Regions from separate parts of the Homo sapiens genome. Here region 1 is linked to region 2. Evidence: fine-mapped expression QTL. Tissue or cell type: whole blood. Region 2 holds a variant in brackets; the other region holds the start of a gene. All regions are shown on one strand. Distances are between the middles of the regions.

Region 1 (5,145 bases), 84 kb before region 2:
GGCAGCGTACATCTATAATCTCAGAGCCTGGGGAGTCTTAAGCAGGAGGACTGCTTGAGCCCAGGAGTTGGAGGCTGTGATTGGCCACTGCACTCCAGCCTGGGCGACAGAATGAGCCCGTGTCTCACAAACAAACAAAATAGAGATACCACTGGGACCCTTTCCTGCCACAGCCTGCTTGAATGAGGCCACACCTCGTTGGAGTCTGGCTTGGTCACTGGGCAAACCTCCCTCCCCTAATCTTGGGACTGTCCAGGATTTGCCTCAGATGGGATTTTCCTGGAGCCCAGCCCCCCAGCCTCAGCAAATGAAGCAATCTGCACAAGTCTTGAGCCAGTCCTGTAGGCTTTGCTGCACCCAGAGGCCTGGAATACAGAAGCTGAGGCAGAGAGCTCCACGGTGGGTGAGGGGTGGCTGAGCTGAGGGGTCCCAAGCCTGGTGGGTCTCCAGAGTCCTGCAGCAAATCCCCTTCATCCTGGGCTGAGCAGAGCTCAAGCCTGGTTTGGCCCTCCGTGGGCCCAGCCCTGGCCACCTGAGGAATATTCATCGCAGCTCTCCATCCCACCACACTCATCGGCAGGGTCTAGCAAACCACCCCACAGCCACAGGCCTGAGGATCAGCCAGGGAAGCTCAATGCATGGGATGTGGTTGTTGATGGGTCGCCGGATATTCCCAGGGTCTGCCCTGGCTTCATCCACAGATCACTTACTCATTATAAAAAGGGGTAAAAGTGCTTTTAAAAGAATGAAAAAACATGGAGTAAGGGTCGTCGTTCACATCTCAGCTGCCTTTTGTGGTCCCTGATCCACTCGCCAGGACAGACAGAACCAGAGAGATGTCCTGCGCAACTGGCCTAGGCTCCCCGAAAACCCGAGGCCAGAAATACCCAGGAAGTCACAGATTCAAGCATCATGCACAGAAAACAGCAACTCGATGCGACACGTGGTCCCGCTCTGACTCCAGGGCAGGAAACCATCCGCAGGACATGATGGGATGGGGGAAGTGAAATGGAACCGAGGAGGTGACATGGAACCAAGTGACTGTGCCACTCAGCCTCGCCCAGGAGTCAGCAAGGACACAGGCGAATATATGGGAAAGTGGAAGGAGGGCAGACAGAAATGGGGGAAGCGGGGAGGGAAGGTAGCAGGGAGAGAGAAGACAGGAGAGGAAGGAGCAAGAGCAGGGAAAGCCAGATAGTCTGGACGGGGGTAGAGGGGGATTGGGAAAAGGAAGGAGCCCAGGAGGGTGAGAGAAAGGAAATGGGGAAGGAGTGATGGGAGGGTGAGTCAGGCCCCCACCCCAACCCCCTGGGTCAGGACCGAAGCCAGTACACCCACTCTTGCCTCTTCCACGAGAGAGGTCTCCGGGGTGGGCGCAGACACCTAACTCAAACAGAACCCACCCCCAGGTGACTGGGGAGAGGCGAGATATTCCAAGGGTGGGGGCAGCAGAGACAATGCCCATTCTAGGCACCCCTTTGGTCCCCGCACCCTCCATCCCTTCCCTGCTCCAGCCCCTGGGGCCACAGCCTGCCCAGCGTCCCCCCACCACGGACACCCTCACATCCTCACACCCTCAGCCCCCACTTCCTCCCCTCCTCTTCCCTTCAGGAGCCTCCCCCTCCCTTCTCTTCCCCACTCAGGAGCCTCCCCCTCCCCCTTTTCGCCCCCCTCAGGAGCCTTCCCCTCCCCCCTTTCTCCCCCATCAGGAGCCTCCCCCTCCCTCATCTCTCCCCCATCAGGAGCCGCCCCTTCCTGTTCTCCCACCCACAGGGTGCCCTAAGCGCCTCCCCTCCACGAGCCTACACGGGGTGGGGGTTGCACTAGTTCCCTACCTGCCTGCAGGGCCCCTCACCGATCTGGATCTCAGCCACCTCCGGGGGGACCCGGCCCCTGCCCCGCACTCCACGCGAAGGGATGCCAGACCCTCGGCCTCCTGGACGCACAGCGGGGGCTCGCACCCCAACCCCGGGAACACCCTGGCCCCTTTCCCTAACGCTGCCCACTGAGGCGTCCTCACCGTCTACCCTGTTGGGGTCGCTCTCTGACCCCCGCGCTGCATCCCCGGGACCGACCCACCTGCTGCGCAGCTACCCCAGGCCGGTCCCAGCCGCCCGGAGCCCCAGTGCGCGATGGCGGCCGGCAAACTGCGCCTGCGCACTGGGCCTCACCGCGGACTACGACTCCCACAATGCCGCGAGGCTGTGCCGCGCACCGGGGCGAGCAAGGGAGCCGTGACAGGTGACAGTGCGCATGGCCAATCAGACGCGAGTGTGGCCTCCCGGCGTCCCGCCCACTCCGGCGCCTGCGTCATTTTGGGCACCATGGCAACGAAGTAAACAAGCGGGTAAATAATAGACCCCTGACAGCCAGAGACCCGGAGAAACAAAGACGGTGAGAAACGGAGAAACAAAGACAAAAAGACGCGCAGACCGGGAGGGAGAGAAGCATGAAGGCCCACAGACGCTCGGGGGCAGACCAAGACGCCCTGGGGTCCCCGAAACAGAGATGTACAGAGTCGGACACGGAAAGGGAGAGACCAGCTCACGGTTAAGAAAGGAGGGAGACCAGCCCAGGATCAAGAAAGGGAAAGACCAGCATGGGCTCAAGAAAAGAAAGAGACCAGCTCAGGCTCAGGAAAAGAGAGAGACCCAGAGAAAAGGAGCACTCGAGGCTGAGACAGATCTGGACAGAGATACAGAGACAGGGACCAGCAGACCCAGTACTGGGGAGACAAGAGGTGGAGACCCAGAGACACTGATGCGCTAAAATGGGTTCTACAGTTTCAAGGAGTGGATAGAACTCAAAGATTACCCACCCCAGGGATTCAGGAGCTGCTGAAATGAGGGAAATGTGAGTGGCAGCTGGGGTGAGGGCTTTGGCAAAGCCCCATATAAATGTAGCCCCCCTGGAAGGCAGGATAGGGCCAGGAGCTGCTTCCCATTTCAGTTTTCCAGATAGAGGCGCTTATGAGGATGCCATTTTGGTCGTTTTTGTGTGAACTGATTTTTAAAATGTATATCTGAACAGTTTATATATTTTAAATTTACATACACCACACATTTTGGTATTCAGTTTTATGAATTTTAACTCATATCCACCAACAAACTCGGGACAAAGAATAGCTCCACTGCCCAAAAATCCTCCTGCTGCCTCTTGGTAGTCACTCCCTCCCCACCCATAACCCCAGGAACAGCTAATCTAAGTAGTCCACTGCTACAATTTTGCCTTCACAGTGTCATATAAGTGGGATCATACAGTATGTGGCCTCTTCAGATTGGCTTTTTCACTGAACATAATTCCTTTGAGAGGCATTGAAGTAGTATGTATCAACAGTTCATTCCATTTTATTGAGAAGTAGTATTCTATGGTATATAGCAGTTTAAACCTTCTCCCACTGAGAGATATTAGGATCGTTTTAAGTATTTTGCTATTAAAAATAAAGCTGCTATGAACATTCGTGTACAGATTTTTCTGTGAACGTAAGTTTTCACTTTTCTGGGATAAAAGCCCAAGAGTGCAGTTTCTAGGTCACACAATGAACACGTGCTTATTAGTGTTGTAAGAAGCTGCCACACTCTCATGCAGAGTAGCTGGACCATTTTACACTCCCACCACCAATGAATGTGTGAATCCACTTCACATTTTTATCAGCATTTGTGTTTTGCTATTTTTTATTTTGGCCATTCTGATAGGTATGTACTGATATATCATTGTGGTTTCAATTTGCATTTCCCTTAATTGCTAACAAGTTTGAGCACACTTTAATGATTTTTTTGGCATTTGTATACCCTCTTCATTAAAGTATCTGTTCGTATCTTTTGCCCATTTTCTAATTTTTAAAAAAATTGCTCAGTTTTGAAAGCTATGTTTTTTTTTTTTTTGAGACAAGGTCTCACTCTGTCACTGAGGCTAGAGTGCAGTGGTGCCATCATGAATCACTGCAGCCTTGACCTTCCAGGCTCAAGTGATCCTCACCTCAGCCTCCCGAGTAGCTGGAACTACAGGTGTGCGCTACCATACCCAGCTAATTTTTTTTTTTAAGAGATGGGGTCTCACTATAATGCTAAGGCTGGTCTCAGACCCCCGGGCTCAAGCAATCCTCCCACCATGGCCTCCCAAAGTGCTGGGATTACAGGCATGAGCCACCATGCCCAGTCTTTCCAGTTTATTTTAATGGATATAACTCAGGAACTGCCAAATGGAAGAGATGCACAGCTAAGGTCTGGTCAGGGGCACTGAAGGTGCAGTGCATCCATGTACCGTCTGGGTGAGCCATCCTCCCAGCACTCAGATGTGTTCACCAACCCAGCTCTCTCAATCGTGGGGCAGAGAGAGGGTCCATACCTTCTTTAAGGTGACTATCCCCATCCTGAAGATATCTATGGGTCCCACTGGAGTCACCTCATTAGCATAAACTCAGGTGTGGTCGAAACGGGCTCCTTATGAATTGCAAACCCTATTCCTATTATTCACAAAATTCCAAGGCTTTTAGCTCTGTGCCAGGAACCAGGGATAAAGATCAAATGTAAGGGCCAGGCGCGGTGGCTCATGCCTGTAATCCCAGCACTCTAGGAGGCCAGCGGGCGGATCACGAGGTCAACATGGTGAAACCCTGGCTCTACTAAAAATACAAAAATTAGCCAGGCATGGTGGCAGGTGCCTGTAATTGCAGCTGCTCGAGAGGCTGAGGCAGCTTGAAACTGGAAGGCAGGGGCTGCAGTGAGTTGAGATCGCACCACTGCACTCCAGCCTGGGCAAAAGAGCAAAACTCCATCTAAAAAAAAAAAGAAAAAAGATGAAATGTAGGTTTTATTACACCACAGATGGCCAATTGTTCTTGCACCATCTGGAAAAGGCTATCTTTCCTGCATTGAATAGCTTTTGCTCCTTAAAAAATCAGTCAGGAATATCTTTGCAGGTCTATTTCCGGGTTCTCGATTCCGTTCCACTGATCTATGTGTCTGCCAATACCACATTGGGTTACCACGGCTACAGAGTAACAACATCAGGTGCAGTTATTCCTCCCACTTTTTTTTTTTTTTTTTTTTTTTTTGAGACAGAGTCTTGCTCAGTTGCCCAGGCTGGAGCGCAGTGGCGCGATCTCGGCTCACCGCAAGCTCCACCTCCCGGGTTCACGCCATT
Region 2 (5,145 bases):
CTCCCAAAGTGCTGGGATTACAGGTGTGAGCCACCGCACCTGGCCCTATGCAGACTATATTAAGAGAGAAAAAGTAAAAATTAAACTTTGCAATTGAATGAAATAACTACTATTTCTACAACACACATTTTCACTTATGATCCATAATGCCTTCTATGTAATTCAAAATTCCAGATATTTTCTAACAGAAAATTTCTCCCTGTTATGAGTCTGCAAAATTTATATGAACAAGGCTATTTATATTTTGTCTCTCTTCCACCTAGTGTAAATCTTCTTGTATTTTGCTACAGATATACTCATGTGTTTGATGGCAGGTGCTACCCCACACCTCTTAGGGATTTACACACTGTATGGTGTAAATACATTACCATCCTACTAAAATCCAAATGATCATGAATTCCAAAATACATCTGGCTCAGAAGGTTTTGAACAAGCAATCGAGGCACTGTCTAAATCCAACAACGATGAATAAATTTTTTCAACATTTTACATGTTTAATAGTTAACATTTCTTCAGAAGTCATTTTTATTTTACAAATTACAATAAACAGCATATTTAATTTGCTAAACAGGAAAAGAGTATGCAGTTATTAAAAGTTGAATTAAAATGGCTCTCATAAATCAATCTTCAATAATATGCTTATATAAAACCATCTTTAGGTTGGGCACAGTGGCTCAAGCCTGTAATCCCAGCACTTTGCGGGGCCGAGGTGGGCGGATCCTCTGAGGTCAGGAGTTCGAGACCAGCCTGGCCAACATGGCAAATCCCCATCTCTACTAAAAATACAAAAATTAGCCGGGCATGGTGGCACGCCCGGCTACTCAGGAGGCTGAGGCAGGGAGAATCACTTGAACCCGGGAGGCAGAGGTTGCAGTTGAGCCGAAATCACGCCATTGCACTCCAGCCTGAGCGAAAGAGCGAGACTCTGTCTCAAAACAAAAAAAAAAAAACAAAACATCTTTGGTCAGGCATGGTGGCTCACGCCTGCAATCCCAGCACTTTGGGAGGCCAAGGCGGGAGGATTGCTTGAGTCCAGGAGTTCAAGACCAGCCCTGACAACACACTGAGACCTCATCTCTACACAAATATTTATTAAAAATTAGCCAGGTGTGGTGATGCACACCAGTAGTCAGTCCTAGCTACTTGGAAAGCTGAGATGGGAGGAACACTTGAGCCCAGGAGGTTGGGCCAGCAGTAAGCCATGACTGCAGCACTGCTCTCCAGCCTGGGCAACAGAACAAGACCCTGTCTCAAAAACAAATTCTTTTAATCAAAAATCAGGTTTTATCCTATACCACATAAATAGAAAGAAATCATTAGAAGAATTTCCACCTGCCTGGGCAACATAGTGAGGTTTCTGTCTCTACAAAAAAGTACAAAAGAGGCCAGGCGGGGTGGCTCATGCCTATAATCTCAGCACTTTGGGAGGCTGAGGTGGGCAGACTGCCTGAGGTCAGGAGTTCGAGACCAGGCTGGCTAACATGGAGAAACCCCGTCTCTACTACAAATACAAAAATTAGCCAGGCATGGTGGCACACACCTGTAGTCCAAGCTACTTGGGCAGCTGAGGCAGGAAAATCGCTTGAACCCAGGAAGCAGAGGTTGCAGTGAGCCGAGATTGTGCCACCTCACTCCAGCCTGGGCGACAGAGCAAGACTCTGTCTCCAAAAAAAAAAAAGCCAGGTGTGGTGGTGTGCACCTGTCCCAGCTATTTGAGAGGCTAAGGTGGGCGGATCACTTGGGCCCAGGAGGTGGAGGCTGCAGTAAGCTGTGATCGCACCAATGCATTCCAGTCGGGGTGACAGAGCAAGACCCTGTCTCAAGAAAAAAAAAAAGAAAGAAAAAAAAGAATTTCCAAGGGGGTTTGCTTCCTTGTGATTATGAAGGGCTAGACGTATCCTATTCAAATCCAGAACAAAACAAGACTATTAGTAAACATGACTACTTAACATAGCTCTGTCATACTAGCTAGGACTATACAATGTTAATTTTTTAAAGTTGAAATATGGAAAAAGAAGATATCAAATTACTTATTAATTGGGGATGGTGTTGTATCTATAATAGACACGAAAAATCCAATGAAATATTATTAGACTATAAGATATCTGCACAGTCTCTGAGTAAATACTCCTATGCCAAAATCAACACACTAACAGCAACAATTAAACAATGTGTAGCCTGAGGTTGGATCCTCCACAGTGACCAAAAAAACCAACAACCCGTGGAACAAGTTTAGCAGGCAGTGTACACGACCACCAGAGGGAGGCAGAGGGCTGCTGAGACCTGCCAGGAAATATCAAGAAAGAGGACACAGGGTCCTGAGCACTGAGAGAGATCATTAGGGCCCTCAGGTCCCAAGAAGACAAGACCATACTGGGACCTGGGACCTAAGGAAGATAAGAAAACACCAGATGTCGGTCCTTGAGGAAGCCAAGAGAATACCTCCTTGTCCTGAGCTCCCAAGGAAGATGAGAGCACCCTGGGCCCAAGGATGGGTGGCACACACCAGGTCCTGGACAGCTACAGACTTAGGTTTCCTCTCCCTAGACATGAGCACCTCAGCTTCCAGGAGCAAACTGGACCACAGGGGGACACTAGGCAGAGGATCCTGCTCCTCCTCCCCAATGCCTGGGGTACAGTTAGCCCTGATCATCTCTCCAGAACTAGGG[T/C]AGACGTTTGGCCTCATTCCCATCACACTTGTGGTCCACCTAGTCTTCCCTCCTTCCCCTTGCACACCCCTGACCTTCCTACTCCCTTCCTCTAATCCCCAGAACTAGGGTGGACGTTTGGCCACGTTCCCATCACACTTCCGGTCCTCCGAGTTTCCCTCCCCTCCCTGACCTTGAGTGGACACTTGGCCCTGTCCACCCTCACTTTCAGGCAGGACCCATCTCCCAGAAACATAAGTGCCGTCAGTCCCAACTCCTGCACACTTCCGGCTCTCCCAGTCCTCCCCTTCTTTCTCGACTTTGAAACTGGTGGAACTTCAGTACCTCTCCCCACTCCCCCCGCGACTTCCGTCTTCCAGTCCCCCTCCTTCCCCAAAAGTTGCGTGGACTCTAGCCCCGCCTCCTACATTCTCCCCGCCCTCCCTGTCCCCGCCCCTCCACCCAGATGGACGGCCAGTTAGGCCCGCCCCCTGCACTTCCGGCCCTACCCGCCCTTCCTCTTCCCAAGGGACGTCATAATTAATCCCGCCCCCACCGCCACCCAACCAAGCATCACCCATTCCAGCACTTCCGGCCTGACCCCTGTCCAGCGCCTTTCCTTTCTCCAGCTTCTGCTCTGCCCCAAGAGTGGTCGCCTTCGTGGCAGGGCACGACTCTCTCCCAGCTCGGGTCGCCGCCCACATTAGTGTGGGGCCCTGCGGCCTAGCGTCCCTCACCAGAGGCCTCCCCTTGCCTAGCTGGACCGCCGAGGGACATCGACGAGTATCCTCCTCCTGCTGTCCCCGGCTTCGCCTGCCGCCCCTAACCGGCCAGTCAAGATGGCCGCCGCTGGGTGAGGCAAGCTGGCGCGCCGCGGGGGCGTCTGGGAGTTGTAGTTCGGGACGGCGGGCTGACGCACTTCGCCGCCGGCCGACGGGCGCCATTGTGCGGCGCGCGCCGGGTGAGTGCCGCGCGAAACCTGCGTCCGTCGGGGGCTGCGCTGGGCGGGTCCAGAACCGTTAGTTGGGGGCGAGCGCGGCCTCTGCATTTTCCGCCGAGCTCGGGTACCCTGAGCCGGCCGTGCCTGCAGTCCTCCCGCCGCTCTGTGGGATGGGGTCGGTGACCCGGAACCCCGAGGGGAGACAGTGCTTTCGGGGCGCCGCGGTGGAGAGAACAGATCGCCTCCGGAAGCGTGGGGTCTGGGCCAGGGAGGCGATCCCCTCCGATGCGCGGGACAGAGGAGGCTCGGTGTCCTCTCGGGGAGGGGAAAACTGGTCCTATCCAGTCCTGTGGGAGTCCTATGACTCACTCTGGGCGTTTTCCAGTTTGGGTGGACTTGTCATTTCCCGCTGAGGGAGCCGTTCCTGGGCGGAGGCTGCGGTAGCTCCCCAGCGGACACCTTAAGCCTCTCCCTCCCCTCCCAACTTCGGTTTCCTCAGGACTCTGCCCACTTCCACCAGAGACACATTGAGAAGGAGGAAACTATGGCCTCCAGGCTTCCGACGGCCTGGTCCTGTGTGAGTAGAGGCTTCCTTCAGCTTTTGAGTCCGCTACTGCACCTGGGAGGATGCGGATGGTGGTGAGATACCACCTTCCCTGAGATACCCCCATCCTCCAGAGCACCTCGGGGAGGGGGTAGAGATTGGTTGGGCATGAGAGATCCTGCGTGATGGTGGAACCGCAGGTTGCTTGGTTTTCCAAGGGTGTAGTTAGAATAGAGACCAGATTGTAGGGGCTTCTGAAGGCCAGGTTAAGGCTCTTGCTTGTATCCTTTATATTGGGAAGAGTAATTGACAGGTCTTTTGTTTGTTTGTTTTTTGTTTTTTGAGATGGAGTCTCCCTCTGTCGCCCAGGCTGGAGTGCAGTGGCGCGATCTTGGCTCACTGCAACCTCCGCCTCCTGGGTTCAAGTGATTCTCCTGCCTCAGCCTCCCCGAGTAGCTGGGACTACAGGCGTGTGCCACCATACCCAGCTAATTTTTTTTTTATTTTTATTTTTTGTGTGTGTTTTTTGTGGAGACGGGGTTTCACCATGTTGGCCAGGCTGGTCTGGAACTCTTGACCTAAGGTGATCCGACCATCTCGGCCTCCCAAAGGTCTATGCAGGGATCAGGCTTATGTTTAGATTTCAGCAGATAAATTGGCATCAAGCAAGAGGTGACAGCAGCAGAGTTCAATAACAAGTAGAAAAGACAGGTGAGGATGGATCCCTGACAGGTGAAGGAGATAGAAAGAAGCATCAGGGCCCTGGGTAGGGGCTGACGGCTTGGGTGTGATGGTGCAGCTCAGAGAATTCCCTAGGAGGCATACGCACCACTCCCAAAGTCAGAATTTTCAAATGAATAAGAAATAGGGGGCCGGGCGCGGTGGCTCACGTCTGTAATCCCAGCACTTTGGGAGGCCGAGGCAGGTGGATCACGAGGTCAGGAGATTGAGACCATCCTGGCTAACATAGTGAAACCCCGTCTCTACTTAAAAAAATACAAAAAATTAGCCGG

Evidence for each region. PIP is the estimated chance that this variant, and not a neighbour inherited with it, causes the effect.
Region 1: it holds the start of ZSCAN18, and the variant in region 2 is fine-mapped to the expression of ZSCAN18 in whole blood (INTERVAL, PIP above 0.99). The same link has a PIP of 0.9 or more in blood mononuclear cells.

The regions. Positions count from the first base shown.
Region 1 is chr19:58,096,095-58,101,239 of GRCh38, forward strand. It overlaps ZSCAN18 (zinc finger and SCAN domain containing 18), which reads right to left and starts at 2,137. Exons shown (of 7, transcript NM_001145543.2): 1 at 2,080-2,137.
Region 2 is chr19:58,179,834-58,184,978 of GRCh38, forward strand. ZNF274 (zinc finger protein 274) reads left to right here and starts at 3,228. Exons shown (of 8, transcript NM_133502.3): 1 at 3,228-3,609; 2 at 4,088-4,165. The coding sequence starts at 4,133. RefSeq lists enhancers at 2,839-3,552, 3,221-3,640, 3,553-4,264, 3,891-4,080. The variant T/C (reference allele first, on the strand shown) is at 2,670.